Linked DNA regions of Homo sapiens: region 2 is linked to region 1. A link means that fine-mapping ties the variant in region 1 to the expression of a gene that starts in the linked region. Tissue or cell type: spinal cord. Region 1 holds a variant in brackets; the other region holds the start of a gene. All regions are shown on one strand. Distances are from middle to middle.

What was found. PIP is the estimated chance that this variant, and not a neighbour inherited with it, causes the effect.
Region 2: PDE4D starts here. The variant in region 1 is fine-mapped to the expression of PDE4D in spinal cord (GTEx, PIP 0.98).

The regions. Positions count from the first base shown.
Region 1 is chr5:59,536,404-59,544,403 of GRCh38, reverse strand. The region is part of intron 1 of PDE4D (phosphodiesterase 4D); the gene reads left to right. Among named protein-coding and RNA genes, the nearest start is that of MIR582, 160 kb to the left of the region's middle. The variant A/T (reference allele first, on the strand shown) is at 3,887.
Region 2 is chr5:59,888,969-59,896,968 of GRCh38, reverse strand. It overlaps PDE4D (phosphodiesterase 4D), which reads left to right and starts at 3,243. Exons shown (of 15, transcript NM_001104631.2): 1 at 3,243-3,801. The coding sequence starts at 3,347.

The DNA.
Region 1 (8,000 bases):
GCTCATTACCAGACTCGATGAGGAGCTCCTTTTCCAGAACTTCTCTCTGCTACACTCTAAGGACCAAGCACCTCTGCCTAAATTCCAAGCAACCATGGCCTGTGGCAGTCTTGGAACTTTTGCCCTCTGGCATGGGTAGAACTAGCGTCAATTGGGTAATTCAATCCCTGAGTTCCTTCTTCAATGAATGAGAGAATCCAGGAATGTGTTGCCAGTTGCCTTTTCCTTGTACCTAGTTTTCCTTGCTGCAGAATGATGACAGTCTATTTCCACACCTCCCCTCCTGCCACTACAGGATTTATGGTCTGCATGCCCCAGTTGTGAAGCTGGCATGTAGCATTTTGTTGCCACAGGCCTGTGAGTGTTTAGAAGTTTGTGTTTGTATTTCCAGGGCTACAGTTTGAATATTGAAGGAACAAACAGCAAACAATTCAGAGGTCAAGCTGTGACTGCTTCCTCATTTGGAGAGCTTATTTTATGTCTGTATATTCTATACTCAGATTCCCACATAACTTGTTTTTTCCACCTTCATTGCTTTGGTTAGATGCTTTCAAGTGCATTTTTTCTCTAAGAAATCTCCATAGAAGAGTTGTTTACTTGAAGTGATGGGTGAGCAAAGTTTGCCTGACGTGGAACCTCAGTAACTTTCCCCTAAGGAAAAGTTCTGGCGTGTAGGGGTGGGCGCTCTTCCATCCAGACGGATGGGAACATAGCCAAGCAGCCAGGAGACACATTGACTTGTGACCACTGGGAAGGATGCCTAGCCAGAAAAGTCCCAGCAGCTGGGTCTGTTAATCTTTTCTGAATGAACCAGCAGGCAGTTGACCTCTCTAAACCTGTCCTGGATTCCTTTATATCTTTGTAGTCACCTTTTTACCCCCTCAAGAATTCCCCTATAAAGTTGTTCTTAATAAGACTCTTTTTGCCCACTTCCCCCTGACCTTCTGAGTTGAATATGAATTTCACTAATTGGTGAAAGAAACCACCATGACCTTGATAAAGCCATTTCTACTCTGGTTCCTCCCTTCTAAGAATTTGTTCATTCAAGCAAGTATTTGAGTCTAAATGGATCCACTTGGACATTTTAATAATTATCATGAACCTCAGTATCCTTAAAGTGTGGCTAAAACAGGCTCAAAAAATTCAGATAGTGTAATCTACTTTCTCTCTCCCTCCTCCAGATTTAAGTGGATTAATTCACTTCACTATGCCAGCACCTGAGTACAGAATAATTTATTTCTGTGTCGTTTCATGATGAAAGTCCAGCTGGCATTAGCTCAAATTATGCAGCTGGCTATTAATTGAAGAAAACTTCCCTGTCACTCCTCAGTCAAACATGATCTGATTCAGCAGATCCTTTTCACTCTCATCTCTTCTATTCTACCAGTAGAATAAATGTAAATAACTTTCACTTGGCTCTGCTTGTCATGGATTGTAAATTACCTGGCAGCATGCAGACTGACCACATTACTGTTTTGGAGGCGGCTTGTTTCAGTTGATTAGTATTTCTAGAAGAGTTTTGCACATTTCATCTCTGAGGCCTGAATGATGTCCACTAGCAGGAAATATTGTAGTCTGCCTTTTTTCTTACATACTGTATACTAAATTTCAATCTAATTTCAACAAGATGTCAAATTCTAGCACCTGTAGGGCAGGTGTTGGTCTTCTATGAATTGATTATATGTTTTTCTATCATACTGGATGGTGTACAAGCCCAGGTTGTATTTTAAATAGAATTTCAAGAGAGAGATTTGTTCTGGAATTTAGAAATATATATTATGTGCCAAAATTATTTGATGAGTGCATTTTGTAATTCTTAAAATACAAAACTACTTGGCATGAAGAGATGCTATAGTATGTTAACAATTGTGGAACTTTTTCATAAGATGAAATTCTGTGCAGAAATGAGGGAGCAGAATTCTTGTGGGAGTGCTAAAATGGTTCATCAATTTGATCCTCACAGCATATGAGAATTCACCAATTATATTACTCTCTGAAAATATGTTTCAGTATCAAGGGCCTCTTTTTGCCCTTCCTCCATCCCAATGTCTGTACTCTCTGTACAGTGTGATCACTGGGTGCTGCATGACCAGTCATTATTATACGCTCAGCCCTGAAAATGAACTTAAGATGGTAAAATCATACCTTGCCAGGATTTGGGTGGCTGTGAGGGATTCAGTAGGATTTTAGCAACAGGGACTGGAAAAGAAATCAGAACTTGGCAGAGAAAAAAATAGCACTAGGATACTAGAAGAGACCTGGGAGAACTAGCTTGACCTTAGAGGCTGGTCTTGTGAGTCATTTGAGAAATAGTATCAAAAGGGCATAAGAGGGCCCGGCATAGATTAGGCTATTTGGGGTTACAGGAGATCCAAAGCTAGAAGGGGCAACAAAACATTGTGGTATGAGGCCATCCTAATTTGAACATCAGGCACAGGATCTAGTGTCCATGAAGTAGATCTCAGGGAATGGGCAGCCTGAGAAGAAGAGTAGATCATGCAGAAGCCAGCAGTCACCCCTAGATCCAGATCTGAGTGTCATGACCTAGATGCAATTAAAATCCTTATAATGGGTCCCACCCTGGCAGGATTCTTTCAGGAACTCAGGCTGAGCCTGAAGTGAGTAGATTCAGCTGAAGGGAAGGTAAAGAACTATAAGTTGATAGACTTGCAAAATGGAGAGGCTGCTTTTAGGAAACCATTGATAATAGTATCAATCCCATTGATAATATATGTGATTGCCCTTTTATAAGGCCATGTGCTTTCTGCACAATTATGATAAAGTATTTAGCCAAACTTGTATTCCCTATATAAAGGGGGAGGAGATAGTATCCCATGGGGAATTCCTTCCCATATTATAAACTGGTAGACAACTTAAGCAAAAATGTTTTTACTCATATGAACACTGTTGAAGTATAAAGCCAGGTATTTAAGTCATGATAGGTGTTTATTTACTTTGAACATTTGCCAGAAGTTTGATGATGGGTATATTTGTAGACTGGGTGTTAGAGGTTGTTATATTCTAAAAAGATATCTTCTGATTAATTTTCTTCATTTATAAAAACAATCTATTTTGATAACATTTAATTTATGAACTTTGGTGTCATGTTACACTTTATACATTTTGGTTGTACATTCCCTGTAATGCTTACAGAGACAGCCAGTCAGGCAATAATTGCTACATACTGAGCGCCTTCTATTTTCTGAGTACTATTGTAAATTATAGAGATAAAGCAGTGAACCAGACAGAGTCTCCATCCTAAAAGAGCCTAGTAGAGGATGGGAACTGATGTAGTATCTTGTAATTGTCACAGCATGGTACACTTGCTTCTTCAGATGCCATTATTAAGGGCGTCGTTTCTTTAAATTCTGAGATCCCTAACTCAGCTTATGCCAGAACTGATGAGAATTAGACCTTCCTAAGGTCTTCTTTCTTCCTAAAATGAATATTGAAATAAATCTATAAGATAAAAATAATCCTACCACCAAGCCCCAATTAAGACTGGATTTTTAACTTGCTCTTCTCAGCACAATGACACAACAGAGGACACAGAGGTTAATGGAATGTCTTTGGAGCAAAGGAGATTTCAAAACCACCAGTTTGTTAGATTTGATGATCAGCTCTGCAAAATGTTTAAAGAAGATTTCTTACTCATATCTTATAAGTTAAGACTATAAATGGTTTAAATGGGGGAGGATGTGACAGGATTGAAAATCTTCCCCTTCCTTTGTGGCTATGAGAATTCACACTGAGCAACAGGGAAGAGAAGGAACTAGAACTTGGAATGAGCCTGTGTGTGGGCCCTCATTGTTCCAGGATTTACAAAGGGCTACGCTGTCATCATATTAAATAAATGGCTCCTGCTCCTTGTGCCAGCTTAATTGCC[A/T]CCTTGGCTCCCGAACAAAGAAATCACAATTGAGGCAAAACATGTTTTGCTATTGAAGGCAAAACCTCCTTAGAGCAATTTTGGGGTTGTTTTTCCATTTAATTTTTTAACTTGCAGAAATAGCCCTCTTTTTTTCTGTTTTTTGGTTTTTTTTGTTTTCGTTTTTTTAAATGATGTACACTTGTGCTGTTAAGTTTCAGCATGGAATACAGGCTTTATGTATTTAGGCAGTAATGCTGAGTTAGATATTGGTACCAAAAAAAATGAAAGAAAGAGAGCAAGAGGACAGCACATGTCAAAATGCCTGATAGAACTGCATGGACAGAACTAAATGTGCTTCCCTACTGTTAGTTACACGTATAAGTCACATCTCAAAGCGTGTTCCCCAGGTTAGCATCAATATCACCTAGGAACTTGCTGGAGATGCAAATTATCTGGTTCCATCTCAGGCCTAATGAATCAGAAACTCTAGGTGGAAGGGAGCAGTCCAGCAACCTGCATTTTACAAAGACCTCCAGGACACTCTGATGTATGCTAGAGTCTGAGATCCACTGGTGCAAAGAATACCATAGGACAGATGTACACTAACTAAACTAGTTCTGTTTCTCTTAAAATGACTTTGACAATATTTAGAATTTTGAAGAATGGTATAGAAATTCATAGTTCGTGTGTGTGTGTTTGTGTATGTATGTGTCTGTGTGTGTGTGTTTTAGCAGAATTCTATTTTAGAAAATATGGGGTAGACTTTTATTTAGTTTTGTTATTTTTGTTATTTTTGAAAAATTAAGAGGTAAGCAGAGAAGTATAGCCAGCTACTTCCATAATTTTGTAGGAATAATGAAGTTTATTCTAGCAGAAAGTTATATCTTATGGAATAACTTCTCTAATATTCTCTCTAGACATATATTCTTTTTTGAGGCAGGAACACAAAAGAAAATTGGCTTCTTCATCAAGTTCAAAGAAATGGTGTTTTAATTATGTAGAGAAGTAATTTCATTTTCTCAGAGAAATGGGTAGACAGATATTAGTAATTTAACTCTCTTCTTAAGTAATGGCTGCTATAGCTCTTACCAACACTGAAAGAAGTAGAGTCAAATAGATTTAAATCTGGCTAGTGATTAGAATTTTTTGGGGGGTAGGGTGGGTGAAACTGTATTGCAGGGAGGTACGTTGTAATAAGACAGCTAGTTATTATGCACTACCCTCCAGTTCTTTGACATGATAGCTAAGGGCATAGACAAAAATCTGAACTCTGTGGTCTTTGTACATATCTGCATTCAGATTAATTCACTTAACAAATATTTGTGGAGCACCTACCATGGGCTTATCACTATAATGGGCTAAGGTTGTACAGTGAGCAAGATACTCACATATGTGATTCTTGTGAAGCCAGAGGTCCAGTGGTAAAGCTAGATGAGTAAACATCAATTACAATGAAGTATAATCACTTCCAGGATGAGGCAGAATATAGGATGTTATGCAAGCAGTCATCCTTGATTTTAGGACTGGGTGATGTGGAGTTCATGAATGGTTCATGGAAGAGGCACTAAAGCCTACAGTGTGAATAGAAATTAGCAAGATGATGGACAGGGCAGGCAGAGACAAGAGCATATGCAAAGTTGGAAAGTGGAGAGTTCTTGACATTACCACATTACTGAATGTGCATATGGTGGAGTTTAGGGTGCAGAGAGGACAGTTGCACATGCTCTGGAGAATGATGGGAGATGAAGCTGAGAATAATACAAGGAAGAGAAAATAACAGGCCTTGCTATCCATGTTAAGAATTCCGGACTTCATTCCAACAAAAGGGAAAGTCTTTGAGGTTGTAGTATTTGGCTGTGCTGTAGAGAGTGTATTGGGGAAGGACAGTGCTGAAGGAAAGGAGACCAGCTGGGACATTGCTGCAATAATTCAGACCGGTACTCATGGCTTGGACCAGCAGCAAGGGGAGAATGAAAAGTAAAGAGATTTAGGAAATAGCTACTTAGGAAATAGATTGAACGGGAACTGGCATTCAATATGTGTGACAGCGAGGAACAGGAAGACACTTGGGACAACTAGAAGAACAGTAGGCCATTCACTGAGTTTGGGGTCCAGCAAGAGGAGTGAGTTTGAGGGTGAAATTATGTGTTCCATTTGGGCTAGTAGGGTCTGAGAAGTCTGTGGTTGTCCAAGTAGAGATGTCCAATAAACTGTGGAAAATGCAATCCCTTAGGCCTCTTTATTCTCATAAATACTTCTCATGCTTTTTCACAGCAGAGGCTAAAGCCAAAAAACTTTTACAGTTGTTGATTACTCCCATAGTGATTGGGCCACTACTCTCGATGTCAGTTTTAAGTGTTATGTGAATTTTAGCGTTGCAGAATTTTAGCATTGCAGAATTTTTCTGCACAAAATCCTAGAAAGCAACTTAGTTTACTCAGTGAAACCTGCCTGCCAACTAACAAGACCTATTATTTTTCAGTTGGGATTTTACTTCAACAGTGGAAACTATGACACAACAGGGATGGTCTAACCCCAATTTGAGCACTCTGTTCTCATTTTCATTAGGAATCACTTCCCTGTAATCATAAAATGGAAATATATTTACTGTAGACATGTTGTTTGGTGAAAGCAACACTAAAAATGAGTAGATGAATATAACAGCTACAGGATAAAATAAGAGTTCCCATTTTTAAAAAGAAGGACTATGTTTACAACACAGCTCTCCTTAATGTTATAGTGTTATTATAGCAGTGAATTTTCAAATAAAATATTTAAATTGGAATGTTAGAAGTTTTCTTCTATCATATCAAATAAGTGGAAGGCCACCTGTTTGATGATTACATATTCAAGTGATAGTTCTCAAAAACTAAAGAAAAATCTCATATAAATTATAAATGATTCTGCAAAGTTTCACCTAACATTTTCTCCATACTTATGAAGCTTCTGAAGTTATTTTACTTTTGAGAAGCCACAGACAGAAAAATTAATATAAATGAGATAAATTTCAACTAGCCTTGAGAATAAAGAGAGCAAGGATAGTCATCAACACAATTAAGAATGACCAAATCCTATTAATGTTTTCAAATTACCAAATTAGAAAAGTTAGGAAGCATGAATAATTTATTTCTGACAACATATTCTTTTTAATATCTGCATTACTTTGGTCGGCTAAGGAGATAAACCTACTCATGTGACATACCATATGTAAACATTTTCCTAATTAATAACTGGAAAGCTTCTATGTGAAATACAAACTTTCTGCTCATACATAATGTAGACTACAGGCAGACAGTTAAGAGTTGGTCAAAGCTGTCAAAGCTTGTTTTATGGAAATCTCATCTTCTTTTCCTGTGCTCTTTATCCTAGTCCAGGTCCTCTGAATTCTTTTACTCTACAGTACTTAGCTAATACAGTGTTTATCCTCACATTCTATCATAGCTTTTATATTAACCACTCAGCAAAATATGTGTGCATGCACATACACGCACAACCATACCTATATTTAATCATCTAGTAAACTATATTAAATCTTCTGTAAACTTCAGATAAGCCTGTTTAAATTGGGGGTGGGTCGTATTGTAGCATACCAAATGGTTCATATACCAAGTATATATTTGTCATACTATGTGGAACAGTATTATATTTAAAACTGAAGTCTTATTTCATGTAGGTTGTACCAAATTTGTGGTGGTAAACATTGTATTTAGGTCATTCACAAAGAGTACAGAAATACAGATTAGCCATATTTTTCTATAGTGCCATTCAGTGTAATAGGTACACAATACATCTCATATTAAAGAAAAAAGAGTCTTTTCAAAAGCCTGTAAGGGTCTGAATAAAGGTCTTAGAAATGTGTCATAACAGCTGAAATCTAAGAGATTTGGAAAAAGTGGGAGAAGTTAAATATTGCAAATGCATAGAGCTAAGACTTCTTCATTGAAAGTTGGGTAGTTCCAACATTCATGTGGAAAATCTTTAAAAGTAGCCAAAAGGTAATTTTTTTTTTTTTTTTTTTTTTTTTTTTTTTTGAGGCTGAGTCTTGCTCTGTTGCCCAGGCTGGAGTGCAGTGGCATGATCTCGGCTCACTGCAAGCTCCGCCTCCCGGGTTCACGCCATTCTCTTGCCTCAG
Region 2 (8,000 bases), 350 kb before region 1:
ATTTATTTAACATATAAGCAGGGAAAACCAATGGGTAGATGGAATATTTTACATTTTTGTTGTTTTAATTAAAAGTAGGAAATACCTAGATTAATGAGAAGAGTTTTTAAATGGAAGGCTGGGAGTGCTCAATATTCAGCAGTATAAGATTTTCTTTTAGCATAGAGGCAACTAGAGTAATACATAAAGTGCATATTTTCATGAGAACTTTGCTTATAAGCTGGACTTCCCTAGAAGTATTTGAGACACAAGGGCGAGTCAACTAATAGTATCTACAGTGTTTTTGCAACCATTTAATGAGAGAGTAAGTCTGGATCAGTAGTTGCTGATGTATGAAATCACATGAAGAGTTTTTTAAAATGCCGATGCCTTGATCCTCCCCTAGAAATACTGATTTTATTTGTCTAGGCAGGGTAGTGATGATCAAACTTTACACTGAAGCAGCATCTTCTCACAAATTTGGTAAAAGTATAAAGCCTCAAGCCCTATCCTGCTTCATGGAGCCTGGGTCTTTGTGTGCTGGATTAGCTCTCCTGGTGATTCTGATAACATCAAAGTTTGGAATCACTGCTCTAGGTTCAACATCAGACATTTTTTTTCAAGCTCCCCCAGGTGATATTCCCTAGGTACAGCCAAGACTGGGAACTGCTGATTAACATGATATTTAGGATACTTCCCAGCCTGGCAGGAATAATAAAAATTGCTACCTTTATTAAACATTCATTGCATATAAGGCATTGTGCTAAGTATTATTTCATTAAATAATTGCAAAATTCTGTGAAGTAGGTAATATTAGTACTACTTTGCATATGGGAGACAGGGATGGTAAATAATTTAGCTAAAGTAACATGGGTAGGAAGTGGTAGATTGGAACTCAAGCTGTAACCTCAAAGATCACACAAGAAACTATTACTATCAATAACATTTTGGAATTATAAGTTAAATTAAAAACTCTACAAGTTGGAAACATATTAAATGATTTTCTTACATTTTAAAATGTTCCTGACTTGCAATTACATAGTAAAAACAAAACAAAGAATTTTTAAAAATCAGTGGGAAATATATAAAAGATAAAGTTTTCATGAGTAAAAAGGAAGGAGCAAATTGGTGGTGAAAATCAGGTTGGATTTGAATTATTCCAATTTAATCTGGAAAAAAATTATAAGTCACTTGTACTGTTAGTGTATGAGAAATTAGAATAAGAGTTTCGGATAGAGGTATTTTGCCACAGTTATATTGAGGCGAAAGGTGGCAAGCATTTCAGGGGAAAGAAGAAATTTGTGTACTTCTTTAAAATGGTTTTGGATGTTAATAATGCAATGAATTAAAAGAAAAAGGCAGTCTATACTGCAGAACACTTCCATTTCTCTCCTTTTGTGTTTGGGAAAATACTGGCTTAGTGCCCTCCTAGGCATGGTAAATACTTTGACCACTGCCACCAGTCACACTTGTGTCTGCAAAAGGGGCAAAAAGAGTGCCTTTGTAAAGTATGGTTTAATCCTACACAGTGGAGAGTGGTGCTTAGGAGATTGCCTTGTTTCTCTTAAGACACAACCTTTCTCAGATTTTGTGTATAGTCCACATATGAGCAGAGGGCTCATATTAAACTGATGGAGGAAAGGTATATTTCCAACCATAAATAAATAAATAGCATGAAGAGATGATGAAGGCCTTCTCCTGCCACTTGCACATTTCGTGGACTGTTCTTGCTGATAAACAAAGTGAGCACTTATTTTCATTGGCATTATTTTCCCAGTGGCATCTAGACTGTGTGGAGAGTGTTGAATTTTCAGCAGTCTAGAGAGTTTGAGACATGGTTCCTGATTCTGGTACTCTAGCATCCATTACATGATATGCTTGAAATGTACATATGAAAATATGTTAAGACTGAGTGTGTGGGAAGAATAGAATAATTACACAGCCAACAAGTTGTTGTGAGTCCTAAATATATTATCGTTCAAATAATGGATGGTACGTGGTAACTTCCACAAAGAAAAATTCTAGAATTATTTTAACAGTAAGCAAATTGCATTTCATCTTTAAGTAATATGGTCAAATAAAAAAGGTACAGGGAAAAAAGTGTCTATATATTGCCCTGAAATCCTCTTGGCTTCTTTAAAAAACATTTGACACTGCAGGAAAATGCTAATTAAAGGAAGACAAAAGTTGAATTTGGATTCTAGTGCCTCATAGGACTCTAATTTCTGTGAATATTGATACAACATGTTTTTAAAACACTTTAGTAATAGAGCTGTGTTCTGCTGGAAGTGGCAGAAAGGCAAATTGCAGGCAGGCACTGAAGATAGAGACTACCGAAGATAATCAGAGGTTTGTAATTGAAAAGGTGCCTTAACCTTAACTCTGGCCAGCGGGCTCAGCCATGGCTCTGCAACTAAGGACGACTCGCCTTGATTTCCAGCGAGGACCACTCCCGAGGCCAAGTTGGAGGAAGATCTTCAAGAGGAAACATTGGGCATTCTCCCTGCTGTGGGAAAGAGCCACACAATGTTTTATCCTATGTCAGGGAAAGAGACTGAATTAATCTTACTATTGGATCTTCACCCAGATCCAATTTTTCAGCGACGCGCATAGACAATATTCCAGGCAACTTTGCCTGGTCACATTCCTTATCTTTGGAAGCACCAGCATGGGGCTCATCGTCAACAAGCTCTGAGAACCAGCCAGGAATCGCCAAACTCCATTTCTCTAAGAGCACTGAGGCAAGCGGAGGTGAAGAGGAAGGCTCCGGGGCAGTGGGGAGCAGTGTGGAGGAGGGAGGCGCGGGCACGGCGAGGGGAAGGATCAAGAGGACAGGTCTGACTCCTGACTGGCTGGAGTGGTTTTGGTGAAAGTCACAGCTCGGGCGTGCCAGCCTGGAGCTGTCCAACTTTTCAGCAGCTCCGGGATCAGGGTTCCGGTGCCCTGGAGGCGGCTACCACTGCCGCCGCCGCCGTTGCTGCTGCTTCTGCAGCCCGAGTTGCTGACAATCCCTGCTCTCGCCGCCGGCGCCCAAAGGAAGGGAAGAAGAAAGGGAGGAAGAAGGACCAACCTCTGGCGAAACCGGGCACCGCGCACCCTAGTCTTGGTGACTTGGGGAGCCCGGGAGCGTGTCTCTGCCATAGCCTCGGTGGAAGGAGCCCTGCCGCGTTCTGTGACCCCTCCCGCTGGCAGGGCCCCCTCTCGGTAGCCCTGAGGCTCTGGCGCCTTCAAGTGAGAAGCTAAGCACCAGCCTCTGCTGGGCTGCAGAAGCGGCGGCGGCGGCAGCAGCAGCAGCAGCATCAGGAAGGCGCTCGGGCCAGCGCGGTGAACCCGGGCTGGGCAGCAGGTCGCGGAGCCGCGAGCCAGGATGGAGGCAGAGGGCAGCAGCGCGCCGGCCCGGGCGGGCAGCGGAGAGGGCAGCGACAGCGCCGGCGGGGCCACGCTCAAAGCCCCCAAGCATCTCTGGAGGCACGAGCAGCACCACCAGTACCCGCTCCGGCAGCCCCAGTTCCGCCTCCTGCATCCCCATCACCACCTGCCCCCGCCGCCGCCACCCTCGCCCCAGCCCCAGCCCCAGTGTCCGCTACAGCCGCCGCCGCCGCCCCCCCTGCCGCCGCCCCCGCCGCCGCCCGGGGCTGCCCGCGGCCGCTACGCCTCGAGCGGGGCCACCGGCCGCGTCCGGCATCGCGGCTACTCGGACACCGAGCGCTACCTGTACTGTCGCGCCATGGACCGCACCTCCTACGCGGTGGAGACCGGCCACCGGCCCGGCCTGAAGAAATCCAGGATGTCCTGGCCCTCCTCGTTCCAGGGACTCAGGCGGTGAGTGGAGAGCGCCCCCTCCCCCATTCAGGCAAAGGGTCACCTCCCCTTTTCTCAAATACTCCATCTAAGTCGGCTTATCACCACCAATTCTAGACCCAGGGTAAAATGCTAGTCTGGAAATTGGGGGAGGACAAACAGGGGTGTGCCTATCCTTTATTGAGAGTATGCTATTCAGGTGTGTGTAAGAGACCCCCCAAAAGTACTGCATAAATGTTAACTGGGGCCGTGTGTGTGTGTGTGTGTGTGTGTGTGTGTGTGTGTGTGTGTGGTGCGCGCGCTTCCCAGTTATCTGTGCCACGCACCAGCCCTCTCCCCACCCACTTCCATACCACCCTGGCTAGTGAGACTAAACAGGCAAAATCAGTTTGCTCTGGGTGGAGAAGAAGAGAAGGTGAAGGTTTTGCGGGATTTGACCAGCGAAAGCACCCAGCATCTGTCCACTCACCCTATTGGGAAGAGGGTCGGTGGGGCTGCTCTGACTGGGGAGGAGGGGGGAGTGAGAAAGCCTGGTCCCAGGATTGCAGCTAAAAGCCTAAGAACAACTCGCATTTCTCTTCGTCAGGTGGAGAAGTAAATTGAATAGCAAAAGGGGAGAACACGTGGGTGACTTGGAGAGTTTGGAGCAAAATGTTCAGCAATCCTTGAGAGAGACAAGGGGGTGAGGGAGGGAGAAGGAGCGAGGACGCTGTGGGAGTTACACTGTGTCGGTGTGTGCGAGCTTGTGTGTAGGGAGACCGTGTGTGTATCAGTCGTCCCTGCAAAATCCCAGGAAGAAAGCGCCTTGTTTTAGCAGCAGGCAAGACGTAGAGATTTGATTATAGTGATTTCCCCTTAACGTAAGTGCTCCGGAAGACAGGGCAGGGAAGCCGCCTATCAACCGGGAGTTTTAGTAGAAGTTGACCGCTGCTTCTCCAAGGAAATGAGTAAAGGACCAATTACAGCCATTCTGAGGAGTCAGCTCCAGATTCTTAACTCAGGCGTGGAGGTGGATGTGGGGCCCACGTTTGGTCCCTTTCCTGATAACCCAGGGACAGCTCCTTTCTTCCCTGTCCCAGGCCTTCCACGCCGTGAATCCCCTCCCCCACACAGGCACAGGAAAAAGATTTCAGGAGCTGCTGATCCTTGGCACATCTAATAGTAAAGTAGAGGGGTCGTCATCTAACCTTAGATGTGGACAGGCATCGATGTACTGCACCTCCAAGCCACAAGTCTGAACAATGGGCAGTTATAAATTGTAAATCAGGTCTGGGTGTGGAAACAGGAAAATCTAGGGCTGGGATTGTTTGTCCAACTCTGATTGACAGTAGGTTGGACTGATCAGAAAATCATAATGGTGTTCAAATGTGTGTTTGAGTTTTGTGTGTGTGTGTGTGTGTGAGCATGTCTCTCTGTTGTATACACTATGTACAAGGGAATCCAGCCAAACTATCATAACCCTGATGTGTACACATCATTTCAGCTTGCATATATGCTCTTAGCCCTTTGCCTGGCTCACACCCTTAGGTACCTTGTTGGAGATGTTCTTGTACCTGTTGGATGGGAAGAATAAGAATTGTAATTAATAACCTCAATTCAGATCAAAGACTGCAGACTTCCATAAATTAATATAAAAGTTTCATTTTTCAGCCAAGACTGCTAAGACCCTTTGTTTGAAGAGGTGGATGTCCTTCTCTCTCCCCTTTGGTTGAGCACGACACTATGTAGGACCCCAATGATAGAATGAAGGCAAGCCTGATACTTTGTATATTTGACCTATTAATAGAAAAATACCGTGTGATGATGAGCCCTTAATAAACATTAAATAAGAACAAGAGTTCTAGCTTGATCTGTGGGCTGATTGATTTTGTAGAGTTTCTTAATTGACTTCATTTTTTAATAAAATAGAATATGCCTGAGAGAGTGGAAGAAAGAAAAATAAGCTAATTGGAATAGAGGTATTGCATCATTGATTTGAATTTATTTTTTGCTATGCTTTCTACATTGATTAATTGTTCTATTTGAAATTTTTAGTTGAATGGTTCACAGGCAAACTAAGATGTATAATATTTATATGTAGCTGCCACTGTGGCTCACCTGATATATCATTGTCATTCTATTTAAGGATCCTTAGACTTAAAATTCTTTACAATACTTGCATATTCCCCACATGCTCACACATTGCATGTCATGTTTTTCCTTAATAGAGTTGCTTTTGCAAATAAATACATCTTTAAGGAGGACATGGATATTAGTTTCATTCTTTAAAGAGAACAGCAACAATACTTTTTTATTTTAAAGAGAACAGCAACAATGCTTTTAAATTATCAAAGAAATTTTACATTTATTAACTTATTTGAATCCTACAACAACACTGAGATGAGATGGTATTATCTCTATTTGATAGACAAGAATGCTGAGCCCCAGAAGATGCGAGCAATTTGTTCAGTATCACATAGACTGTGAGTGCTAGAGCTAAGACTGAAACCCAAGTCTCCTGCCTCATCAAAGGTGGTGAGCCCACCTTAAATAAATGTGTGCAGAACCTGGGCCTGTTGACAGCATCAAGAAATACATGAAACCAACGTGAAGTTTATATCGACTGATACTACAGGACATAAAGCCTGAATGAACTAAAAATGAGATATGGTTTAAATCCATTTTTAACAAAATGACATATATCACAAGCTTCTAGAAGTAATTAGAGATTTTAACTTTAGAAACTCTGGGCAGTATAAACTGGTGTTAATGATCACAACAGAGGCAAATCAGTGTATTTGTTGACTTTGTAAAATGCATATAAATACTTATGAAAGAGTGTTCAGATAAATTAAAGCTAGTGAGAACATCTAACGTCTTTTTCAATAATTTTCTAAAAGCAAACAAGAAAAGGTGTGTGTGTGTGTGTGTGTGTGTGTGTGTGTGTGTGTGTGTACGTGCGCACCACCATCTTACCATCATCCAAATGGGGGGTTTAAATAGTCTATCAAGTTAATGTCTCTGAAAAAGCCTCATGGGTGGATGGATGAATGATTCCCTATGGATTATCAAGAAAGGTATATCTTTTATAAAGCTATTTCTAGCATGCACTGTAGCATTTCCAGATATTATCTTGGCTGAAATTTTGAGAATTTGTAACAGTTTGTGAAGCAATGGGAAAGAGGAATCTTGTTTAATGAAAAAATGTATATAAGCAGTAAGGAGACAACCCTTAGATATTTTGTGGTCAATTCTTTTAAGTCCATGGGAAATTTGGATATGTTAAATAAATTTTTTATATAAAGTGTGTCTGTCAAACAAGGTAGATTCATGTCTTAATCTCAACATGCAAGAAATTTCAAACAATAAAATTACCAGAGAAATGAGTCTCTAAGTTACCAAGAGAACAAAATGAAATATGAAAAATGTTTAAAACACTCTTTAAAAATGTACATATCAGATTAATCATTTCAACCAATAGTCTTCAAAATGTGACAACTATTTAACTGAACTGATAAATAATTTTATTGTTTCTTTGACTTTACACAACAAAATATTATTTTCAATAATATAATACACTAAGGTTGAAAATACAAGCAGCATGGATGATTCCTTGATATTATAAAATATTCTGGATTATAGTGATACAAATATCCAGAAGGGGACATTTGATTTAGATACTTTGTTTGATTCATTTATTTTTATCTATTTATATTTATTGTTTTTTTAGAGACTGGGTCTCGCTCTGTCACCCAGGTTGGAGTACAGTGGCACAATCATAGCTCACTGTAGCCTTGAACACATGTGCTCAAGTGATCCTCCTGCCTCAGACTCCCAAAGTGCTGGGATTACTGTCATGAACCACCATGCCTGACTCAATTTAGGTAGAAGGAAAAGAGCTAAAACCTATAATCACACAAAATATAAATTCTGCGCATATTATATTTACTTGACATTAGCTTTTTTTTTTTTTTTTTTTTTAGACAGAGTCTCGCTCTGTCACCCAGGCTGGAGTGTGCAGTGGCACAATCTTGGCTCACTGCAAACTCCACCTCCCAGGTTCAAGGGATTCTCCTGCCTTGGCCTCCCAAGTAGCTGGGACTACGGGCACGAGCCGCCACGCCTGACTAATTTTTTGTATTTTTAGTAGAGATGGAGCTTCACCATGTTGGCCAAGCTGGTCTCAAACTCCTGGCCTCAAGTTATCCACCCGCCTCGGCCTCCCAAAGTGCTGGGATACA